Linked DNA regions of Homo sapiens: region 1 is linked to region 2. The links come from fine-mapping of genetic effects on gene expression. A gene starts in region 2. The other region holds a variant in brackets. All regions are shown on one strand. Distances are from middle to middle.

Region 1 (13,119 bases), 29 kb before region 2:
ATGCCCATCCACCTCTGCCCAGCCCTGCCTTTCTCCCCTGCTGCCACACGGAGGCGACAGAGCAACCCTTCCACAGCTGCCTCTGGACGTTCTCCCATCAGCAACGTGGATGGGTGGCTGAGGTGGGATCTGTGCCTTCTGCAGATGATCCCGGCCTGGTGATGGCCCTCTTTTGGGCTGAGACTCCTCACGCGGAAGATGATGGAGGTGGATGTTGTGAGTCCTCTGGTCCTCCAGCACTTCAATCCAGCCTCCCACGGCAAGCCAGTTCTCGGCAACTGTGTGCCTGGGGTTCCACTCCCAGCACCTGCTTCTGGATGGCCTGGGGGATCCACCTGGGTGCCCCTCCACTCCGGGTCCCAGGGGAGACTGACACCCACCCAGGCAACCACCTGCTTGTTACAGAGCCCTGCAGGAGGCAGCTCACCACCCACGAGGAGGGACTTAGGCAGCGGACTTGCTGAGGGGTAAGGGTCTGCCCCATGATGCCTCACAGCTCCACCTTCTGGGAGCCACCCACGTGTGGGCAGCCTCAGGGGACTCCAGCTCCAGGAGCAAGATCGGGTTGTGGATGGAGGAAGGGTAAGTGAGTCACTGGGCACTTCCGAAGGCCCAGCCTAAACGATGTCCGGCCCGGCCCAGAGGAGATCTGGTCTCCAGTGGGCATGGCCTGCAGGACCGTGAGGGCTGATGTGTCTGGCATAGCTGAGGGCTGAGTCAAGGGACAGGGTGTTTGCTTTCCTGAGAGGACTTCTCCGGAGTTGGGGCATCTCCAGCCTTGCAGCTTCTCCTGTCTCTGCCAAGGGAAAGGTGGTGGGCCAGTCTCTGAGCTCTGTTCAAATGTCCGTCCCTCCCTGGGTGCTCCCTCAGCTGCAACCCACTCCACGCTCCATGCCTTTTCACCACTTGTCCCCAGCCCTCCCCAGGATGCCTCCTTTAATCCAGTGAGCTGGCTGCTACCAGTCAGGGCACAAGTCACTCCCAAGCAGTTCAGTCCCTAGGGGAAGGAAGGGCCAGCTCACACATCTTGAGTGCCTGCTGTGTGCCAGGCAGGCCCGCGTGGCACACTTTGCGTTATTATTGCGTTTCTTTCTCACAGCAGAGCCTTGTGAGGCAAATATTATCACACTAATTTCACAAAGGAGGAAGTCAAAGCTGGCCCTGCAGTATGAAGACTCAAGCCCAGACTTGCTGGCTCCTGCCTGCATCTCCCTCCACCTGGGTCTCCTGTCTCCCTACCTGCGGAAAGCTCACACTCTGAATCATTGTGCATGGCTCTTACCCCGCCCACCCCATCCTTGCGGCTGCTCACCTCCTGCATCACCTGTGCCCACTCAACAGCACACATGCCCACAAGCTCACATGCACCAAGATGGGCGCACTGGGTGCACGGGTGCACATGCATATTCCAGTCCTTACTGCTGCTTATCAGCTGTGTGACCTTGAGCAAGTCACTTAACCTCTCTGAGCCTCGGTTTTCTCATCTCACAGGGGTTGTTATGAGAATTAAATAAGATACTGAGTGTAACATTTCTAGTACCTTCCCTGGGCATAGTGCTCAATAAAGATTATCTACTTTTTAAACTTTAGCTATTTTTATTTCATCATTATTGTATATGTGCATCTTTGTACACTTTTTACACATGTAACAAGAGACATGCAGTAGACACAGAGGCCCGGGGATTACCACACACACCTACTGCCCATGCAGGAACCCACAATAAACCAGCCAGCCACCTAGTATACTGGGTGCCCATATGCTCATGCCAGGCTCTACTGAAGATGGGAGTTGGGGTTACCTGTGGTAGGGATACCTGTGTATAGGAGAAGACGGGGCCCTGGCCTTGGGGTCCACCCAAGCTGCCCGGGAAATGAGTTTTGTGCTCAAAGTGTGATCTGCGGGCCAATCTGGGACCTTGTTAGAATCTTGAAGAATCTCATACCTGACCCCAGATCTTCTTCTGAATCATGATCTGTTTTGGTTTGTTTTTTTTTTTTTTTTTTTGAAACAGAGTCTTGCTCTGTCGCCCAGGCTGGAGTGAGTGCAGTGGCGCAATCTCAGCTCACTGCAAGTTCTGCCTCCCAGGTTCATGCCATTCTCCTGTCTCCTAGGACAATAGGCACCCACCACCACGCCTGGCTATTTTTTTTTTTTTTTAGTAGAGATGGGGTTTCACCGTGTTAGCCAGGATGGTCTTGATCTCCTGACCTCGTGATCCACCCACATCGGCTTCCCAAAGTGCTGGGATTACAGGTGTGAGCCACTGCGCCCCGCCCCGATTTTGTTTTGTTTTGTTTTTAGAGATGGGGTCTCGCTCTGTCAGCGACAGGCTCCAGTGCAGTAGTACAATCATACTCAATAGCACACTGCAGCCTTGAACTCCCAGGATCAAGCAATGCTTCTGCCTCAGCCTCCCAAGTAGCTGGGACTATAGGCACATGACGCCACATCCAGCTAATTTTTTAAAAAGTTTTTTGTAGAGATGGGGTGGGGTCTTGTTATGTTACCAGGACTGATCTCAAAGTCCTGGCCTCAAGTGATTCTCCCTCCTTGGCATCCCAAAGTGCTCGGATTATAGGCATGAGGTACCACACTCAGCCAGGATCTGCATTTTAAATAAGATTCTCAGAGCACTAAGGCAGAGCAGAGGAAAGTGGGTGGAGCTGCATGCCTGGGCAGGATGAGGCTGACTTTGGGCCTGTCCCAGGTGTCTCCAATCCACACCTCTATCAATCAGGCTAACACACCTCCTGGCTCCTCCTCTGCTCTTGGGAGTTGATGCTAAGGTGTGAGGTTATCCAGTTCAGCCTTGGAAGGACAGGCTGGCCCCCTCAATCCTGTTCTAGGAGAACAAAAATAGTGAAGTCTCTCCTTGGTTCCTCTCAGGGCTCTGAAGGGCTTGGGGCTGGGAGCCACATAGGATCCAAGAAACTAGCAGGGGGTGCCTCCTGCCCATCGATCCCCCTTCTGAACCATGTTCATCCTAGCTTGTGAATCTCCCCTCCCAGCCTCCGGGTAGGTCACTGCCAAAACTCTGGCTGACCTCTTCCATCTTGAGTGGGGTGTGGGCTCAGTCCCTTGGGGCCATGGGAGCCTGAAGCCTGGGCCAGATCCCCCCTCCCTATCCCTGTTGGGGCTAATTTTAGGGCTGCTTTGACAGCTGCCTCAGCTCAGCCTGGGTCAGTTCCCAGCCACTCACTGTTGGGGTCAGTTAGGGTCACCTAGGAGTGGGCCAGGCCAGCCCCACCTTTGGCTGCAAAAGATGAAACTAGAATCTTTGTCCCCTGTCCGCCCTCCCCACTGCCTGGAGAGTCCCACTGAGCTGACCTCCACGTCCCATGCCCTGTATGTGAAACCGCAGAGGAGCCCAGGATTTAGAACAGCCCATGGAGATCAAGACTGAGTATTGGTGCCTCCATGCCTGGAGGATGCAGACAGGTGAGGCCCCTTCTCAGCGGCCCTCTCTGATGCCAACCCAACACATATTTCTGAACTCAGTTACTGTGCAAGGCTGTCAGAGATTAGGAGCAGATGACACCTGGGATACTTTCTGTTTTTTGAGATGAGTCTCGCTTTGTCACCGAGGCTGGAGTGCAATGGCACAATTTCGGTTCACTGCAATCTCCGCCTTCCAGGTTCAAGCAATTCTCCCTGCCTCAGCCTCCCAAGTAGCTGGGATTACAGGCACCCACCATCACAACTGGCTAATTTTGTATTTTTATTAATTTTGTAATTTTGTATTTTTGGTAGAGATGGGTTTTCGCCATGTTGGCCAGGCTGGTCTGACCTCAGGTGATCTGCCCGCCTCAGCCTCCCAAAGTGCTGGGATTACAGGTGTGAGCCACCGTGCCCAGCCACACCTGGGATACTTTCTAGAGGGAGGATTTTAGCTTCTGAGAACAAAGGGATGGAGTCCTTCCTCTGTCACCAACGCTCTGGTCCTTGGTTTCCTCCCCTCGGAAAGGGTGTGGTGATACCTGCTCACAGACTAGCTGGGGGTACAGAGGAGGAGAAAAGGGCCGGAAAGCGTGCTGGGAACTCTGGAGTCTGCAGTGCCCACAGGGCCGCCACTCGGCTGGGGCCTAGGTTCTCTCCCATGAGAACCTAGAGGTTGAGCAGCTACCACAGTCTTCGCCCCAGCCTGCCCCCAGCCAGTAATGTTGCAGAAGAAAAGAGGAACAGATCTTGAAGCTGACGTGGGCGAAAGGGAAGGGAAATGCAAGCAGGGGCCACGGAGGGAAGCTATGGGTCTCCTTCCCCCACCTGCAGCCTTTGCTGCCTCTGTTACTACCTTCTGTCTTTCCAAATCCTCCCCTCATCTCCAGCTCCTGCTTCCTCCCTGACCCTAGGGGGCTAAATAAGATGGGACACTGAGCACCCTGTGGGGAGGTGAGCTGTCTGGTGGGCTTTGTTTAATTTTCCAGAGCCCCCTCTCTACATATAA[C/A]CAAGGAACTTTCTAAAGACAGGGCTGGGCTTCAGTCCTCCAGGGGCAGCCCTGTGAACTGGGCTCAGAAAACCTCAGATTTGAACCCTCAACCCCATATCTGTCTGTGTTACCCTGAGCCAGGTGGGCCTCCCTCTGAATCCAGGTGCCTCATCCTCACACTGGCCCCATGAGGCCTTTGCAAGCTTCTGCCTGGTTCCTGGTTCTCATGGTGCCCCGGCCTTGTGTGTGAATGAGTGTGTGTGTGCACACTGGACTTTGCTGCACATGGTAGCCCACAATCAATATTGAATAGCCCACCTCAAATCCTTTTTGAAAGGCTGAGTACCTGAATAAATAGATAAATGTTGACTGAGTCTAAAAACACACATGCAGCCTGAGAAAAGCCTTGTTTATCCAGCCTCCCTAAATAAGGAGTCAATTCCCAGAGCGGACTCTCCAGATGATTCAGGATGGAGGAACCTAAAGATGTGGAAGAATAGAGGCCTCCTAGGTGGAGGGAACATCGTGAGCCACAGCTGAGAGCTGGAGGATACTTGGCTGCAAGTCGAACAGCCACATGAGATGAGCTGATAAGGCTGGCAGGGTCCAGAGCCTGGAGGGCCTCGAATGCCAGGCCAAGGAGCCAGACCTTATCCAGAGGGCAGTGGGAACCATGGAAGGGTTTTGAGCAGGGGAGTGACAAGGCTGGGTGTGTGGCCAGCAGGGTCCCTCTCTGGTTGCTGCATGAAGCATGGACTGAAGGCAGACAGCAGTGTCAAAGGGCCCTCTGCTTTTGAGGTTCAGGAGGAAAAGATGAAGGATGAAGTTGGGCAGTTCAGCGGAAGGTGAGAGGTGGACAGTCCCCAGGATAGCACAGAGGGGTGGCCAGGATTTAGTTAAGGATGGGAGGAGGGCAGGCAGAAAATGAGAGGAGGCTTGGTGGCTTCTGGGTTCCTGGCCCAGGTGACCGGCTGGTTGGTGATGCTCTTGCTGAGGTTGTGACAGGAAGAGCAGGTCTGGGGAAAGATAAAGAGTTCATCAGCTTTGGACATGTCAGGGGAGCAGGCGTCCCAAAGGAGGATTGATTAGAGGGCTGGAGCCAGGTAAATGTGGACAGATTTTCCCTGAATGACATTTTACTGGATGACTTTAAAGTATCCCAAGTATCCTGGGGACAGTCTTTGGCACCAACTGCCTATGGTCCCCAAGACAGATAGGACCAGGACTTGGGTCCCAGAGAAGGGTCAGCAAAGGGTCTGACTAGGGTGAAGGGGAGGGTCTAAGATCCTTGGCTCAGGAGTACCCCCAGGGTAATGCAGGAGTGGCTGGCACAGAGGTTTAGAGGTAGATAAGGGGTAGGAAAAAGCCATGGGTGGGCTGAGCTGGCAAGCCTCAGAGACCAGTCAGCCCAGAACCATCATTGTACAGACAGACAGAGCCAGGCCCGGCAAGGCCTAGGGATCTGGCAGGTCACAAGTCAAGGCAGACAGGTCATCAGCTTCTGGCTCAGTGCTGTACCCTCAGCCCGACTGGCTGGGAGGGGTCAGCTCCGTGTGGGCCTGGGATTGAGCTCCTGGGCCACGTCTAGGTGCTGTGGGCTTGTGTGGTTCGGGTGGAAGCACTGGGGCAGGCAGATGAGAGCCCCACCCTGAGCAGCACCCTAAACCCACTGTCTGTCAGTCTGCCCCAACCCTGTGCTTTTACTTTCTCAGTCCCAGGACCCAGGCTGGGCTGTAATCAGAGGAGGGAACTGGAACCTGGACCGGGGGAACACAAAGCTCTGCACACAGCCAGTCTCCTGGCAGATGCTGAGATGCTCATGGGTGGGTGGGGGACTGTGGCATCAGGGGCCATGTTCCACACAAGGTGAAATGCAGTAAGGGCAATTTCCACAAAGCTTGTTGAGCCAGGTACTGTTTTATGATCTTGAAACAGTGAACAGGATTTATGTTCTAACTAGACATTGACAATAAGCAAACTAATACATAACATAACAATGGAAAGATGAGAGGAAGAAACAGAGCCCAGAGGGATGGGCACCTTCAGTGGGGAGCGGGGAATGGCCACTTGACAGAAGACCCCTGCAGGCCTGATGGGCTGAGTGATTTTAATTAAATCTATGTCCCTACCCCCGACCCATGTACCCCCACCCCGCCTGCCACCAGGCACTCCACCTTCTCCTCAGCTCTAGCTGCACCACTGGGAGTTCCTATTTTTTTTTTTTTTTTTTTTTTTTTTGAGACAGAGTCTCACTCTGTCACCCAGGCTAAAGTGCAGTGGTGCGAACTTGGCTCACTGCAACCTCCACCTCCCGAGTTCAAGCAATTCTCCTGCCTCAGCCTCCCAAGTAGCTGGGATTACAGGCTCCCGTCACCACACCCAGATAACTTTTGTATTTTTAGTAGAGACGGGGTTTCACCATGTTGGCCAGGCTCGTCTTGAACTCCTGACCCCAAGTGATCTGCCCGCTTCTGCCTCCCAAGGTGCTGGGATTACAGGTGTGAGCCACTGCACCCAGCCGCACCATTGGGAGTTTCTGAGGGCTGCCCTTGACTGGACCATTACCAGGGCCTGAGGAGGACTGTGGGGAAATGAGCCTCTCACAAGGTCTAGTCCCTCCCACAAAGTCCTGCCCAAGAGCCACCCCAACCTGCCCACTTGGCTCCTCCAACCTGGGAGCCAGGTAAGAGCTGAGGAGCCCCAGGGCCTTGGCACTGAGTCAGATGTAGCCTGGGAGGTGGAGGTGACTCACTTGGGGGTGTCAAGATCCAGGAAACCACAGCCCAGGGTCAGGGCAGAAACCTGGAGACTCCCTGCCTTGCCTTGCCCCAGAATGATGAATAGGAGGGCCCTGGCCTTTCCTAAGAAGCCCCCAGCCAAGGGTCCTCCTGCTGTCATGAAGGCCCAAGTTCCAGTCAAGTTGTTGAGAGGTGCCCAAGGACCTGCCAGTGCCTGCTTCCTCTGGGCCTCGGCCTCCTAGTCCACTTATAGTGGGGAGCAATGGGGCTAGATAAGCTTCAGTGTTCCTAGCAGCTCTGAATTTCTGTTTCGTTGAGTATGTTGCAGGAGGCCCACAACCTCTGATGGTTCCTGGGGGCTCAGGGCAGGGGTGAATGACAGATGCTGAAAAGCGGGGGTCAAGGGAGGGTTTGCAAGGTTTAGCAAATGTCAATACAGGATATGTTGTTAAATTTGAATTTCAGATTAGCAATGAATAACTTTTTAGTATAAGCACATGTCCCAAATATCCGTTATGTTAAAGAATTTTTCACTGTTTATCAGAAATTCAAATTTGACTGGGCGTCTTGTACTTTCTCCGGCCATGCTAGGTGGGAAAGGTAATTGGAGCTGGGACTTCATCAGAGGAAGGTCTTAGACTCAGACAACTGGAGCTCTCACCACCTCCCTTGCTGCCCTCAGGGTCCCTTATCCATGAACTTCTTGATTTGTTGGAAGGTAGGGGGATGAGGGAGTGAGAACCCTGGGGTTAGGGGAAACTAAGAGCTATGTAGAGAGGCAGAGAGACCCCAAGACCCCAAGAGGCAGCACCGGAACTCTTCCTGGCCTGCACTCAGCTAACCTCGCCACCTCTCTTCCCCAGAACTCCTGCAAAGCTCAACCTCATTCCTACTGCCATACCCTTGCTTGTTCCAGCCCTGCCTCTTTCCATCCTATGCAAACTTTACCCACAGCCTCTGCCAGGAGCCCTTTCTTGGCTATCCTTTAGCGTTGTGACTTCCTCCTCTGGGTTCCCAGAGTGCTGTCAGTCACCCTCCTCCTCATGGAGCTGTTCAATCAATGGAGCACCCTCTCTGGAGGAGGCTTTGGAGCAGACTCTGGGCAGTGATTAGGACAGTGGAGCCGACAGTGATCGGGACAGGCACAGCCCCTGCTCCATGGAGCACACGGTCTGGTGGGGAGGCAGACACACAATCACAAAACAGGAGAGAATGAATCGCCCTTTCACTGGGACCAACTGGTCCATGTCACTGAGGCTTTATGCAGGCAGAGGACACGTTCTGTTGTACTCGGGCCCTACCACAGAGCAGGCTTCAGTGAATATTAGTGGCATAAGTGAGAGTGCAATGATGCAACTAAAGCTGGGGATGGTGGGGACGCTGACTAAGTCTGAGAGGTCACCATGCAAACAGCCTGAACTCGGCACCTCCGGCCGTGGCCTGGACCTGGTGAGGCTTGGCATCATGGCATGCCATTGCTCATGAGAATCTGGCCCTGCAAGAGTCTGCATTTCCAGGGGTCAGGGACTGGATCTTCCTCTCCTCTCATTCCCTCTTGCCCTGGCCAATAACCTGACACAGGAGATGAATTGATAGAGAGCTGATAGATGGGAAATACTGTGTGGCTGTCCCACTGAGGCTGGAAGGACTAGTCACACCACATTGTTCTTTCTCCTCTGCATAGAATGTTGCTTGGGGCAATTTTAGTAGGTAGTCACAATCTCTTTCCAGTATTAGAAGAGATGAGTGACTTTCTCCCTGTATGCAGGTCCCAGTGGCGTTTAGCATCTGCTTGTCCAGACCCCTTCACAGCTGTGGTCGGGGACCCCGCAATGACTGTGACAGGGCCATGCCTACCTACCCTTCACTAAGCCCTGGCTAAATGAGCCAGGCCCCCCTACAGACACCATCTCCAGTGCCCAGATTAAAGAAGAAACTGAGGCTTGGGAAGTGTAGGTGCTACAGTGGCTAAGCCAGGATTTTAACTCAGATTTGTCTAATGCTGAGGCTCAAGCTCCTTCTGTTGCACTGAGCTGCCTCTATTTTTTAAAGTAACCTCTGAGATGTTACTTATTTTTGGAACTCAGAAACTCACTCCAGCTTTATCCCACTTTGATCTTTATGACTTAGGTTGCAGATGCCATCAAAGCTGTTGCTTCTCTGTGAACTGCAGCAGACTTTGCCCGGAGCAGTAAACTGTGGACGGAGGAAGGGAAGCAGGAAGGCAGGTTTGAGACTGGTTCCCCATGGGTTCACTGGCACTATCCTGGGTCGTCCCACCCTTCCTTCAGCCTGCCGCCCTGTCCTGAGTCATGCAGTTCCCTAGCACTCCTGGGACAGCTGAGCCCTGTGCATGCATGCACGCAGCATTCCCCTGCAGCCTGCGCTCACACCACCCCCCACGCACCACCCTCCACCTGGTCCTGGACATACTTCGCTACCTCAAGGTATCCAATGGCCAAAATCCAAGGCTACCACTGGGGAAGATTCTTCACGGGTTTGCAGTGTGCCATGTCTCCCCTGCTAGACTGTGAATGCCTCTAGGGCAGGGACCTTTCACCCTCTCATTTGTGTGCCCAATAAGCACCTACTATGTGCCAGGCACAGTGCTGGATGCCAGGGTATAATTGGAGCTGATGTGCAGTCAGTACACAATGGCACAGCTGTAGCAGCCCTGAGACCTCCAAGTGCTCCAGCACCCTGGCTGCCCCTTGGTGTACTGCCTGGGCCTCCTCACAGTCCTTCAATGAAAGGGCTAATGTTTGGCACACTGGAGGGCTCCAGGAGCTCATGTCACATTGGCTCATGTCTTAGACCTCCTGGACCTCCCTGGCCTCTGTAGGTATGTGCCTGATTCCGGGCAGGTTTGCACTGGGATAGACATGGGGCGGTTTCAGTGATGAGTCACCTGATGACAGCCCTGTAAAATATAAAGGAGTGCTGGGTACAGGCATGCACAAGACCTTGAGTGCTCCTCTGTGACAGTCTCCTCACCAGTAACTGTCTGAGTCAAGTCTGGCCATAGGCAAATCCATTGTCATCCTTTCCTCTCCCCCTGCTGGCTTCAAGATCCAGCCAGTTCTCTCTTTCTTTGCTGGCTTCTGTATCACTAATGGACTTGTGGCTTTGGGAGCAGGTGCCATTTCCCTGCAGGCTGTGGACTTCTTATCAGCTCCATCCAAGAGTTTTGACAGGAGCCTGAAGCCCTGTTTAAAGTCCCTGTCTTCTAGTGGAGTTTCACTGATTTTCTGGTTATGCCAGCTTCTGGTTCCAAGGTCATTGCCAGCCCTTAGTTCATGGGCAGAGCTGAGACCTTTGGCATGCTTGGTGCCCAGCTCAGGTTCCCAGGTCTGTCCCCCTACCCCAGGGGCTCCCACACACCCTGGGATGGTCTTCTAGGGCCTGTCCATGTGCAGTGTTCACAGTGGCAAAAACACAGCAACAACAGCACATGCAAACGCTCCCAGCAAAAGGTAGGAGGGTTTTACACTCCTGGACCAGGGCTGGAACAGCGTTGTTTATTAAGAACACGGACTTTAGATAATTCTATTGAGATTATACATGGAAAGCCCTTGTTTCAGTATCTGACACATACTAGGTGTTCAATAAATTACAACTATCATTAAAGGCACTTTGAGGAGAGCAGAATTTGCTATGATGGTTGATGATGTGGTAAAGGTAGTGATTCTTGATAGTGATTATGGAGTCTCACCACTGACAATGGCAACGATAGTTTTCCTTACCCAGGGAATGATATATCTCTCTGGGGATATTTACAGTAGGTTTGTAGGTCACATTTGATAAAGAGAGTCAAGAAGAGAAGGAAATATGTCCTATGGGTAATTTCTAGTTTGATTATGGAGACAAGATTCAGAGACACAAAAGAATTATAAGAGTTCTCCCACTTGACCTGGGAGCCAAGGGCTCGGGAAAGGGAGGCTCAAGGTTCCTAGCACAAGGTAATCATTCAAATATGATTCCCCAAAATGGCATTGACAGCCTTCGTCCTCTTTCCACTGTTGGTCACTGTTAGAACAGAAGGGAGGCTGGTGAGCCAGTGAACCCCTGCTTCTTTCTCCTGCTTACTTTCTCCCCGCAACTTGCCAGAGGTTCACAAACCTTCAGGTAAATGACATGACAGGGAATGTCACTGACAGAGGGTTAGGGGTGAAAATGTCAGGATGGGCAAGTATCAGACCCTCCTGGCCTTCCCCCAGCTGCTCCAGAGGAGTTTTGAGCTGAATTGCACCCCTAGCCACAGCGGAGCCCACTACTGTGCTCACAGAACCACTGTCGGAGAGTTTCGAGGACTCAGAGAGAACACAAACACCAGGAGACTGGAAATTCAACTTTCTTTCTTTTTTTTTTTTTTTTGAGGCAGAGTCTCACTCTGTTGCCCAGGCTGCAATGCAGTGGCACAATCTCGGCTCACTGCAACCTCCACCTCCCGGGTTCAAGCAATTCTCCTGCCTCAGCCTCCCAAGTAGCTGGGATTACAGGTGTGCACCACCACGCCCAGCTAATTTTTGTATTTTTAGTAGAGACAGGGTTTCACGATGTTGGCCAGGCTGGTCTCGAACTCCTGATCTCAAGTGATCTGCCTACCTCGGCCTCCCAAAGTGTTGGGATTGCAGGCGTGAGACACTGCACTGGCCTGGAGATTCAACTTTCAAAAGGTAAACGATGGAAACCACAGAGGAGAGACTTTTAGACCCTCTGCCAGTGACATTCCGGATTACCAATACCTTCAATAGTCCAGAACCTTATTACCTGTATTTTACAGTTGTGGAAACTGAGGGTCATAGGGTTTAAATAAACGAATAAGTGATAGAATCAGGATTTGAATGTAGGGTTGTCTATTCCAAATCATTCCTCTTAACCACTATCCTGCCAGTCGAAGCCATGGTGATGCCCTTCTGAGCAAATTGATGGTGTCTGTGATGCCCTTATGTACCAACCTTCTCTACTCAGCAGAGGAGGAAATGGCCCCTGGCTAGTGGGCGGGAGCATCAGTGGATATTATGCTGGATTAAGATGTCATTCTACTGTTGACTTAGAACATAACCATGGGGCCATGAGGCCGCACCCCTGTGGGAAGGCAGTGAAATGGCTCATCTAAAGTTCTTCCTGGTGTAAGTGCCCTGGGGAAGATGTGTGATCCAGGGCCTGGGAAGCAGAACTGCTGTAGGATCTTATGGCTACAGAAGAGAGACCCGGACTCTTTTTTTTTTTTTGAGACAGAGTCTCACTCTGTCACCCAGGCTGGAGTGCAGTGGCAATTCTTGGCTCAATGCAACCTCTGCCTCCCAAGTTCCAGTGATTCTCCTGCCTCAGCCTCCTGGGTAGCTGGGATTATAGGCACACACCACCACATGCGGCTAATTTTTGTATTTTTAGTAGAGATGCGGTTTCATCATGTTGGCCAGGCTGGTGTCGAACTCCTGAATTCAGGTGATCCACTATCTCGGCCTCCCAAAGTGCTGGGATTACAGGCACGAGCCACCGTGCCCGGCCAGACCCTGACTCTCATAGTCTGCACTTTTGAAGATATTGAAGATATTGGTGTCTATAAGGATGTCCCCAAGTCAGGGGCCTATCAAAAAGAGGCAGGTCAGGAACTAGAAGGGGAGGGTGGAGATCAGGCAAGGCCCTATGTTTCACTCTGGAGTCAGTTAGCACCTGGAGAACAAATGATACCTTACACAACAAACTGTTTAGTAGGTCACACTCCACCCCATTCATGTCCCCATTGTCACCTCTATCTGAACAGCCTGTTACAGCCATTTTAAGGAAGCAATTTTTAAGGATAATAATTTAAAATAAAATTTTAGAACAAGTAGACAAACTTCTTAAAAGAATAGTTTTTGATGCACAGAAAAGTTGCAAAGATGGTACAGAGGATTCTCGTATATCCTCACCCACTTTCCTCTACTGCTAACGTCTTATATTGGCCA
Region 2 (11,980 bases):
CCAGGACTTTGGGAGGCCAAGGCGGGTGGATCGCTTTAGGCCAGGAGTTCAAGAACAGCCTGGCCAACATGGTGAAACCCTGTCTCTACTAAAAATACAAAAATCAGCAGGGTGTGATGGTGCACACTTGTAATCCCAGCTACTTGGGAGGCTGAGGCAGGAGAATCACTTGAACCCAGGAGGCGGAGGTTGCAGTGAGCTGAGATCACGCCACTGCACTCCAGCATGGATGACAGAGCAGGACTCCATCTCAAAGAAAAAAAAAGAAAAATTATTCAGGGACAGTGCTAGGTGTTGGCCATTTAATTGTGAACAGAATGGAACCTGGCTCTGCTCTCAGAGAGATCCCTGTTAGAGGGGGAGACAGGCAGTGATAGCAATAACAGCATGGTAAGTGGTGGGGCACCTGGCCTGGGTCTTCGAGGACCCATGGTGGGGAGCCAGAAGCAGGGGGCACTGTGGGCAGAGGGAGCAGCAAGAGGCAACAGGAGGCTGGTCAGAGGTGAGAGGTGAGGCAGAGAGGCAGGGAGGCTGGAGTGGCAGGCTAGAGAGCTAGGCTTTATCCAGAGGATGGTGGAGCCACCAGAGAGTGTAAGGCAGGGTATGGCATCAAGGGGCAACAGAGACACCACTGTACCCTGGGAAGGGGGGATTGGAGCCTGGGCCAGGGCAGAGGCTTCATCCCCAGCATGCATTTTCAGAGCAAGTTTTCCCAGGGGCAATGAGAGAAGTTGAGAGAAGGAGGATGAAAAGGCCTGAATGAGCCAAATACCTCCTCAGGGCTGGAGAGACAGGAAGCCTCCTAATACATGGGAGAAGCTGAGGCTGGAACTTTGCCCTTCCCCTCCTGATCTGCTACTGCTAATGGAACCCTCCTCCCGCCCCCATGGTTCCATTACCCACCTCCAGGGGACCATTACTGTGCCTGGGCCTTCACCATTAGCCTGCCTTGGCTGCTTGGTTCCAGGGAGACTCCCTCGATGCTATTCCAGCCTTTCAGATGGCCTGTTGTGTGACGCTGGCTGTGTCTCAATTTCCGGTTTGATCAATGGTTTTACATTACTTCAGCCACAAAATCTTTCATGTGCTTGCAACAAATTCTTACCAGGAAATGTAAATAAATAAAAATACAAAGGCAAAGGTGCTCAAGTTGAAGTGGGATGGGAGTTCCCCAGGCAGCCCCAGGTAAGGGGGACTCTGTTGGGGGATTTGAAGCCTGCTGGGCTTGATGGCCTCTGAAACCCAGCGATGGGACTGCCTGGGGAGGATGTCAGGAGACGAAACTTCTAGGCCCTCATTGCATGGGATACTAACGCCTTGAGCCCAGACAGCTTGGGATGATGAATAAAACCATGAAAAAAGAATTTAAGGATAGGGTGCAGGGGCTCATGCCTGGAATCCCAGCACTTTGGGAGGCCGAGGCAGGAGGACTGCTTGGACTCAGCAGTTTGAGACCAGCCTGGTCAACACAGGGAGATCCCATCTCTACAAAAAATTTACAAATTAGCCCGGCATGGTGGCATGTGCCTGTATTCCCAGCTACTTGGGAGGCTGAGATGGGAGGATCCCTTGGCCCTGGGACATAGAGACTGTAGTGTGCTGTGATCATGCCACTGCACTACGGCCTGGGTGACAGAGTGAGGCCCTTTCTCAAAAAATTTAAGACAGGCCAGCAAGTGAGAGATTAGTATTACTCCCTTTTGCAAAAGAGGAAACTCAGGCTCAGAGAGGAGTCATAGGACAGGTGAGGTAAGACTGGAATCTAAACCCAAGGCTATGGGGTTCAAGGACTAGGCCCCTTCCTCTGCTCCTCAAGCCTCACTAAGTCACCTGTGTGGTAGCTGAAACGCTGTATGTCTCAGGAATGCAGTTTCCTCAGCTGTAAAGTAAGGGAATTGGGCCAGAGCAGGGGCAGAGCCCTGGGCAGGCCACCAACCAGATTTGCCCGCTGAAGGCTAAGGTCGAGCCTGGGTCCTCAACTTGGCGTCAAAGAAACTTGTTTCTCCTGGGCTAAATGGCAGTGACAGTATAAGGTTTGAAGTTTTGGAAGAGGGGAGAGAAAGAGAGGGTTGGCTGGAGTTCCAGTGCCCAAAGGGTCTTCCCCACACTGGAACCTGAAGGCCTAGGCCCTATAACTCGGGCTATGAGGATACTTAGGTCCCTGGAAGGTGCGTGGCCCAGCTTAGACAATAGGCGCAGGAGGCTAGACAAGGGGCCTTTGTGTCTCCCAAGCAAAGGCCCCAGCAGGACTGCAGAGGCGGCTCAGCCACTATGGGCTGTGTGTCCACTCTGCTACTGCTCCTGGTGGGGCTGCAGCCAGCACCCTTCCTGGCAGCCAGGCCCAGTCAGCTGATATGGAGCCCAAGAGGGCCCAAGGCCCCGAAGGCCCGGGGCAAGTTCCTTGGCTACAGGAAGAGGCCTCCTCTGCACTTGTCCAGCCAGCGGAGCGATTGGCTCCATTTCACAGGAAAGAAGACCCTGCCAGGGAATGGAACTGGGTCAAGGTCTCCCAGAGTCAGTGCTGAAGCCAGACAGGAACCTACACTCCTGATTCCTAGACCAGAAATGAGAGAGAGGCGGGGTGCTCATTCATTCATCCATTCACACCTTCAAGGATTGAGCACCTCCCAGGACCTCTAGGACAGCAGCAGGAAGAAGGCAGACCTGGTTCCTGCCCTCGGGAGCTCACAGTCTCCGAACGGGTCAGACATGCAGCCGGTAGCCCGACCAGGGAAGGCCATTAGAGTGGGGTTGACGACAGAGAAGAGAGGTAAAGCAGCTCAAGATAAGGGGCCAGAGTGGGGAGTTCAGGGAGCTGCTGATAAGATTAAGGCAGGGAAAGTGGGGAGCACGGGAGAGGCGGGATCCTGAGTACCCTGCTTTCCTAACCACGGTAATGGAGAGAGGCACCCCCTTCCCCCACTTTCAAGCAAGGGAGGTACGTCCTTAGCCTGGGGTTCCGAGCAGGTATCTCCCAGTAGGTCCCTTCCTGGCCAGCCGGGCTGGGGCAGGGGCGGGACAGGGGTAGGGTGGCGCGGTGGCTGGGCGCAAAGGTCCCGCAGTGGGCCACGCAGGCACCGGGCTGACCTGGCAAAACTTTGGCGTCTCTGAAAACCTCTGGTAACCAGCTCCCTTCTAGCGTGAGGGAGCCGGGAGGCCTCCTTCTGGCCCGGCAGTGAGAGCGTCGCCGCCCGACCCTCCCGTTGCAGCACCGGTACAGACACGCTGACCCCGCGGCCTTGTCGCTGGGCGGCGTCCCGGAGCGGGTGGCGCGGTGTCTACCCGGGCGGGTTGAGGGCGGTGCCAGGGTCAGTCAAAAGTCCGCCCCGCCCCCTGCCTGGCCCGGCTTCGGGGTTGGGGAACAGCGCAGGGAGGTGGGTAGCCGGGCTCCCAGGCACGTGGGTCTCTGCGGCTGCGGCGGGACCCGGGCACTGGCACCCGGGAGCGGCGGCGACGGCACCCTGAGAGGAGAAGCGCAGCGCAGTGGCGAGAGGTGGGGTGGGGCGTCTGGAGGGAACAAGGCGCTGGGAGAGGCCCGGGGAAGCGGCGGGCCAGACTGGCGCAGGTGCGGACTGGGCGCGGGGCAGGGGAGGGCGCTGTGGAGCGGCTGTCGCCCCGGGGCACAGTTGCGAGCCGGCGTGTAGCGCATAACTGGACGGCTTGAACGCGCCTGTGGGTCCGTGGTTGAACTTTGTCTCCACGGGAGCGTCGGTCTCGGTGAGTGTGGACGGGCGCCCCAGTAGTGAGGCTGTGCGCGTCAGCGTACTGGGGAGGTCTGCGTGTTAGCGGGTGAGTGTGTGCGCCCCTCGGGGCGACTGGCCAAGCCTGCGGAACTTGTCTGTGTGTGCTCCGATGTGAGCGTCCCCGTGGCGTGAGGCGGTGGCCGGTGCCCAGAGACGCGAACCCCTGGAGACCCCCTACCACTGTCCTAACCCCAGGGTCACTCTGGGTGGCCACCTACCATTGGTAATGTTGAGGGGGCAGTTGCAGGGAGTGGGCGGGGGAGGAGGGAGTGGCCAGAAAGGACAGTTAAGCCTCTGTCCCCGGGCTTTTAATCTGGCAAATGGTGCGGTAGAAAGGGTCAGTCAGGAGAAAGGCGATACCCCACCCCCCAACCCGAAGGCTGCCAGTGGCCCTCTTGGGGTCCTCCAGGAGCGCAGCCCAAGGGTTGGGGACTGCTGGAGACCAGAATTGCCAGCTCGGGATTTGTGGGGTCCATGGCTGCTGTTCCTCTCAGCATGGCATCCCCAGCTTCCCAGGACCACAGCCTGATCTGCCTGGTTTGTTTTGGATCTAAGCTGAAATAATTATGAGTTTTGAGGATCTGGGTGGAGACCCAGGCAAGTTTATTACCTGTGGGTGGAAGTGGAAGGAAGAAGATTCTCTGAGCAGACAGGTCCACAAGAGAGCTCTGGAGACTCAGAGATCTATGTTCCAATCCTGTCTTGGCCACTGTGTGGCCTGGGCAAGCCGTCCTTTCTCTGAGCCTCAGTGGCCTCGTCTGTAAGAAGGGACTAATGATAAGGAATTTGAGGGCTGTTGAGGAGCTGATGAGTGTGTCATGTTCAGCACCAGTGTCCCCCCATGGGCAGGCTCACAGCTTGGGGATGGGAAGTCAGTCCCTGGAAGGAGCCTCCCAGAACCAGAATCCCAACTGTGCCCCTCCCTAGGGCACAAGCCTTCCACAGGACCAAGCCTGAACCCTGTAGCCTGGGACTTAAGGTATTTGATAACTGGGGCCTGCCAGCCTTTCCAGCCACCTCTCCCGCCTGACTCTTTACCTTGCAGCAGCTGCCTGGAGTCTCTCATTTCTTGCCCCTGGCCTGTTGCATATTCTACACTCCCTCTCTGATAAGCCCTCCTACTCTCACCTTCCTCAACTGGAGAACTACCCAGACTTGGGACCCAGCTCAGATGTCCTCTCCTCTGGAAAGCCTTCCTTGATCCCTACAGCTGGGTTGGAGCCTCTTCTAGGCCCCTACAGGCCTGGGGCTGACAGCCCTGGTCCCACCTGAACCGTCATGATCTATGTCTGTCTCCTCCTTTCCTCTTCCCAGGTCTAGGGGCTCCTGGAGGGCAGAAACTGGGTCTTATTATTTCTGTGTTGCCAGCACCCTGCACAGGGCTGAGCTGAACTGAGAGAGCAGCAGTGGCGCCCATCCCCTGTCTCTGGCACCAGCTTCTCCAGTAAAGGCCCGGCTGCAGGGGAGCTCCATGTCACTACAAAGAAGGGCAAACCAGAATCTGGTTATCAAAGTGGGTGGCACAGTTTGCCAGAACAGTGTGATCTGGGACACTGTAGGACCTAGAGTGCCCAGGCTAAAGACCTAGAGATTTTATCCTGAAGGCAATAGGGAGCCATGGAAATTTATGAGCAGAGGTGTTTCATGGTCAGAGCGGCATTTCAGAAAGCGCTCTCTGGCTGCAGGATGGAGAATGGATCAAGTATTGCCAAGTGCAGGGAGGTCAGGGCATTTGTGATGTCAACACTAGAACTGTCCCAGGAGTTGTTTGAACCCTAATTGAGCCCTTGCCCCTTGGCCAAACACTTTTCCCTGAGCCTTCAGATGCTCCTGCTGAGGAATTTGGGGACCTGCAATTGATCTCATCCCAGCTCTGTTCCCAGCTGGTTGAATGACCAGTTCCTGCCCTGCCAGGCTCTAAAAGGAGGCCAGAACAAGTAAGATCCTGCATGGGAGAGTATGTGTGTGGGGAGGCTCTGGCACAAAAGGCTTGTCGCTCTTTCTCCTCTTCTCCCTGCCTTGGGCTGTCTTGGAGTCTGGTCAGAGGGGTTGGGGATCCCAGTGGGCAACCCTCAGAAATGACTACCAAGCTTGGGCTGTGGAGTGAGGCTGTGACTCCTCTGTTTCTGTCTCCCTCCTGCCCTGGATGCATGGGGCTCTAAGGCTGTGGATCCCCCAAGGACCAGCTAAGAAGGTGTGAGGGTATCACCAGGGCCTCATGAGTGACCCCATGAGAGCTTTGACTTAATGGCTATAGTCTTTAGAGAGGCCATTGTCCCTCTCTAGGTGTCAGTTCTGCCATTTGTAAATTGAGAATGGTGATCCTTGCTTCTTTGAGAGCAGAGTTGCTACGAGGATTAAGATAGTGACCAGGGAAGAGCTTTATAAGCCTTAAACTGCAGTGCTCAGAGGAGGAATGTGACACTTGTAGACTTAAATCCATTTTGAAGACTATAAGAGAACATGGGTGCAATAGCAAGGGATTGTGCTTGTTATTGAAATTTGATTACTGAATGCCTTCCTCCCCCACCCCCTCTGCAGAGATGGCTTCACTAGTAACGATTTACAACAATCCATTTTGTCTTCCTATAGCCCTGTGAGGGAGGAATTGTATCTCCATTTTGCAGATCAGGAAATAGAGGCATGGATTGTATCCTGCCCAGGGTCACCAAGCTGAGGTGAAACCTGGGGCTCCAGTCCACCTGCCAGCTTAGCCCTCCCCATCTGAGACAGAGCCCTGTTAGGGTTAGGCCTGGTCCTCTGGCTTCCAGGCTGAGGGGAGTTTGAATTCTGCCCTGGGAACCTGTGTTTGGGGCTTTCTTGTGGCCAGATTACCCAACTGCTGATAAGGTAACGCCTGCCCAGACCTGCCCACGGGACCAGAGATGCCTTGTTGATCTGGTGAGGGGAGTGGGGGTTGCCCCTCATGCCTTCCACCCAAACCGCCTCTCCCCAAACTGCTTTCTGTAGGCCTGCTTGCTATACCCTCTGGGCCACACCTCCTCTTGGTTGTCCTTGGGTCCTGAGGCCTGGCCTTCCCTTATTACTGGGCCCTGATAGGAGGAGGCTGGCTGTGTGGGCCACTCTGACCTCTGTACTCATCCAGCGGCCAGTTGCAGGACTAGGCTAGGCCATACCTGCTTTCTCTCTCTGTCCCCATCAGCCACCACAGGTTGGGCTCAGAGCAGCTGCCAGTGGGTCTTTGGGAAATGAGTGGCCAGGCGGGAGTAGGCATGGAGTAGAAGGGGAGGCTTTGCTCCACGGAGTGCCATAGTTGGTTCTGGAGCAGAGGAGTTCCTCCACCCCATCACCCCATCTCCTAGGCCTGAGTCTTTCCTGGTCCAAGATGAGTAGCGGGAGTTTCTGGTAGGAGGGTGAGCAGCCTGGGCCCCGTGGAACAACTCCTTGACCCTCTGCCCTGGTACCTTGTCACTGTCATTGTAGCTCCTGAATGAGAGGCCTGGGTGCTGGAGTGAGGGAAAGGGACCTCCCTCAGACTTCTGGGGCTTTATGTGGCCTCTCCCTCCCCAGGTCTGAGGAGAGCCTCTGGGTGTCGACCTGGCTTCCTGGTGAGTGCCCAGCCACCCAGCCCTGGCTTGTAGGAGGGGGACTCTTGCCATGGCTGGGCTGTTGCAGGAAATCCAGGGCCAAGGGACCTGCTCCTCTCATGGCACCACCGTATGTGTCGTCTCCTCCTTGGTCTCCCTCCCTCCAGACTCCCTGTCCCATCTACCTTCCATGTGGCACCATCTTTGTAAAGGTTGACTCTGACCATGTCCTTCCCCTCTTAAGCCTTCCATGGCTCCTCAGTGTCCTTAGAATAGAGGCCAAGCTTTTCAGCCTGGCATTTGAGCCTTTTCAAGTGAATTCCTCAGGCTCCCACACATTCCATGCCACCTCACCCTCCACAGTAGCCGTATAAGACCTCCCAGCCTTTTTCCAGCAGGTCACACTTTCATCCACCAAGTCTTTGCTCATGCCTCTCCTGCCTTCAGAGCCCTCCTCCCTCTTTGCCCACCTGACAAACTCCTAATCATCTACCAGTTTCCAGCTCAGATGACCCCTCCTCTGCAGAAGCACTCCCTGACCACCTCCCCCAGGCCAGGTAGGAGTTGCTGTGTGCTCCATAACCCCTGGGCTTGCCTTGGTTATGGTTTATTCACCCAAGTGGATTTGGTCCATGTCTGTGTCTTTTTCCTCAGCCTGACTGGGTACTCCTCAAGGGCCCAGCAGAGTGCAATCTGAGTCTGAGTTCACAAGGTCCATCTGAGGCCAGGTGCACCAGAGCATTGGCAAGTGTTTGCTGGGACTTTGTGGTTCCTGGGAATGTGATTTAAGATTTCATTACTCTGAATCCAGACCCCTGTGGCTCTGAGAATCTCAAAACCAAAGGCTATCAGGAGCAACGAGTAATAGAATTGAAGAAACACAGCCTTCACACCCGGAACCAGAGCCTCTTGGAATTAGACTGCGAGAACCAGGGAACTCAGAATCCTGGAGGTACCTGGAGGGGCCATCTCAGAATCAGAGGCTCATGTGGTTCCTGGTTGATGCTTTCATCCCCCTTTCCACCTTGGATTCTCCATCCACCTTCTTTCCTCCCAAGCTGGACCCTTCCTGCTCCTCCTCAAATCTTATCACAGTTCCCCTTCCAGGGACCTTGCCTGACTGCTCTGACCATGACCTCTGTCCCTCTGCTGGGGAACACCTGGGAGGGCCTCCCTACCAAGCAGTGTCATGGGCTCCTGAATTTCAGTGTCTCCCTGTTGTGACAGGCAGACACAGCCTCCACATTAGGACAGTTCATGATTTGCTAGCGCCAAGGTGCACCCACCTGCCCCCTTGTCTTATTCCTCATGAGCTGTCCCATGCAGCAGTGATTCTCCCCATCTGACCACTGAAGAACCCGAGGCTCTGAGAAGGGGGGCTGACTTCACCAAGACTGCACAGCACAGGTGGCTCCAAGTTAGAGCCTGAACTCACGGTTCTTGCCTCTTGAAGCTGGAGGCATTTGGCTGTGATAGGTTGGGGTGGTGTCCAGGACGTTGTGGTTCTGAGCCTGTTTAATTTAGTAGCATGTCTCTGTAGCCCTGTTCTGGGCTATGCTGGGTTCCAGGTGAGATGGGTGGTTTGGGGTCCTGCTCTATGTTGGGGGTGAGGTGGTCAAACCCACACTGACAATAATTGGAACACTAGACCTTGAGTAAGGCCCTTCCTCTTTAGAGGTCTTGGCTTTCTGATCTGTAAGCCTGGTTGATCTGAGACTTACCCACTCTGATGCTGCTCTGAGCTCAGCCTTGGTGAGTGGCCTCCACAGCCAGGATCCTAGGGGGGTCCCAAAGAGGGAGAGAACATCTGGGAGGGGGTAGAGAGCCCAAGGGCCTCCTGAAGGGGGTGCCTAACACCACAACAGCACCGGCTGATAGCATCTGAGGTTACCCCTTAGCCATTTCCTCAGACCGGCCCTGGTGCTCCCGGTGCAGAAGCATGTCAGGCAAGGCAGGGGGCCTGCTGGCTTTCAGCCCCTTGAAGGACATTGGGGAGGAGCCAGCGTGACTTCTAAGCTCCTCAGCCTGTGCACTCTAGCCTTGCCCTCTCCACTCCCCTCAAGCCACCAGGATGATGAGCAGTTCCTCAAACGTGTCATGTCATCTCTTGTTCATCCTCACTCTGCTCCTCTTCTCTCTCCAACCACCTGACTCCTCGTCTTCCAAAATGCAGGTCAGGCGCTCTCTCCTCCAGGAAGCCTTCCCTCATCACCCCTCCAATCCTGTTAGGGGCCTCCTTGGCTTCCTCCAGGCCTGATCACCCTGTGTTATCATCGCCTGTTTCTGAGTGTGCCTCCCCTGACGTTGACAGTGAATTCCTTGAGATCTGACCTACCTCAGAGTCCCCAGGTGCCCTGCCCAGCAGTGGGCATAGATGTGGCAACCTTTGTGAAGGGTGAGCGAGTGAAAGAGTATGGTGGCTATCTGGCTTCTGCTGGGGAATCCCTGGACTGCCTTCCCCCTGAGGATGGCCTTCAGTGTGGGAGACCTGATCTGTGGTTTTTCTGGTTGTGACCTTCCTGTATCCCCTTCCCATAATTCCTGCGAAGCTTCCTGCCCTTCTTGTCTTCCTGAGATAACCCCACCCTCCATGCCTTCTTTACCTGCTGAAATATTCTCTCTTACTATTTCATAAAATAAGCCTAAATCATCTAACTAGCTCAACAACCTTCTGAGGCAGGTACTGTTCTGATATTGAGAGGAAATTGAGATCTGGGTTTTGGAGTTAAGAGACTTGTCTTACCACTGGAAAGAGGAGAACTCGGATTTCCCACCTGCCTAGTGCCTCTCTTGCCCCCTCAATGAGGTTCTGGCACTAGGTCCTCTGTTTTCCCTCACAGCACCCAACTCCTGGCAGAGATAGGCAGCAGGGGTCTCCACAGTGGTGACAGCACATTCTCCCCTACCAGGCTAGACAGGGTCTGCCACCAGCCAGGGAGGCACATTCCAGAGCCACTCTAGTGGAGGGGCTGGAATGTCATCCAACCACCCTGGAAATTCTGCAGTGGCCTGGGAGCTGCCCAGCTCCTCCTCCTGACTTTGGCCTCACTAGCCTAGAACCACAAAGAGAAAGGCCCAGACTGGGGTAGGGGCAGAGCCAGGTCAGGGGGTTACAGGTCTGCATGCTAGGCTTGGCTCTGCCCTTGGCTCACTGGTGACCTTGGGTGAGACCTTGAGCTACCCCTTTCTGGCCTTAGTTTTTCTACCTGTGAGATGGGTGCAATAACCACCCATCTGAAAAGAGTAAATCCTGAGCCCTGCCAATTGGCATTCCTCTGGCAGAGAACTGAGCAGACAGGCAGAGAGCTGTGGGGCCAAAAAGGGATGGTCAGGCAGCTTCCTGGGAGAGGGCCGGGGCCTTGCAGGGCAGGAGGTAGTGGTCAGGGGCACAGCCTCTGAAATCAGACAGCCCAGAGTGGCTATGCCGTTTGCTAATTCAGGATTCAACGAGAGGAGGTATATGAAGCCACCTAACACAGAACTTGGCACAGGGACAGCACTAAACTCTTGTTGTGATATAGGTGTTAGATGATAAGGGAGGCCGTCTCTGAGCAATGATATGACCATGGGACTGCTTTTGTTGTGCCTGAGACAGGAAGATGAGGGCAGGGACAGAGAGGATGGGCTTTCTGGAGGGATGGTGGGTACCAGATCAGCCAGGGCCTGAGTGCCAGGCTGAGGAGCTGGGACAGTTGCCTGAGGGCACTAGGGAGCCACAAACATGGCTCAACAATGTATGGTAGGATTCGTGTTTCAGGAAACTACATGACTGCAGTGTGAAAGGTGGACAGACGGGGCAGGGGTGGAGGCACGGAGGCCAGTGAGGAGGCTGCTGCTGTGGACTGTGGAAGCACAGGCCTCGGGCTGCAGTGTGGGGACCGCGTAGTGCATGTCCGAGGAATTTCACTGGTTGGACTAACAGGGCTTGGTGAGTGGTGGGCTTCCAGCAGGGTGGGGAAGAGGGAGGTTGTCCAGGCTGTATCAGAGGTTTGAAACCTGGAAGGATGGTGGGGGCCCTTCTCAGAAATGAGAACCACTTGTGGAAAGTGATATTCTCCATTTTAGCCTGTTGAGTCAAGGCATTTTCTAAGGAGGAGGAGACAGGGTGTGCACCTGGGTGCAGCAGGGTGAAAAGGCTGACCATCCCTCACCTTGTCATAGTCTCTAGAGTAGATCAGTGGGGAGCTACCAGCCCACCGGCCTTGTCAATCTGAGACCACCAGGCAAGGTGCACTCAGTAAGCAGTGGCCCAGAGGCATTTCCCGTGTGCACCCACGCCCCCCGTACCCAAGCTATTCCTGCAGTGCCCCCATCTCCTCTCCCACATCCCCCCAGCCTTGTACTGCACTTCCAGCTTGGGAACCTGGGCTCAGCTGTCGCAGGCCCACTCCTCCATCCTAGGCAAATGAAGATGGAAAAAGAAAAACTCAGGAGGTGCATGTTCTATTTCTCCTGTGAGGTACCTGAGGTGCTGGTGGAGGGTGGGACCTGCCCACACAGAAGGTCCCCTCCACCAGGCAACTGTCCCCTCCCTGAAACCCTGTGCTTGGTGTGCACAAGGGGCTCCAAGGTGAGACAAAAACCACGGCCAGAATTCGGGAGGGCTGGGCTCTAGTCTTGGCTCTGTCCCTGACTTACTGTGAGGCTTGGGCCTCAGTTTCCTCCTCTGTGAAACAGGGTTTGACACAG

Evidence for each region.
Region 1: its variant is fine-mapped to the expression of P2RY2 in whole blood (TOPMed, PIP above 0.99).

Annotation. Positions count from the first base shown.
Region 1 is chr11:73,185,342-73,198,460 of GRCh38, forward strand. No RefSeq gene overlaps it. Among named protein-coding and RNA genes, the nearest start is that of IUR1, 9.0 kb to the left of the region's middle. RefSeq lists an enhancer at 2-51. The variant C/A (reference allele first, on the strand shown) is at 4,446.
Region 2 is chr11:73,214,940-73,226,919 of GRCh38, forward strand. It overlaps P2RY2 (purinergic receptor P2Y2), which reads left to right and starts at 3,342. Exons shown (of 3, transcript NM_002564.4): 1 at 3,342-3,493. It overlaps LOC124902709 (a long non-coding RNA gene), which reads right to left and starts at 3,254. Exons shown (of 3, transcript XR_007062773.1): 1 at 3,088-3,254; 2 at 904-1,100; 3 at 1-249. RefSeq lists enhancers at 3,176-3,894, 3,895-4,613 and a silencer at 3,253-3,462.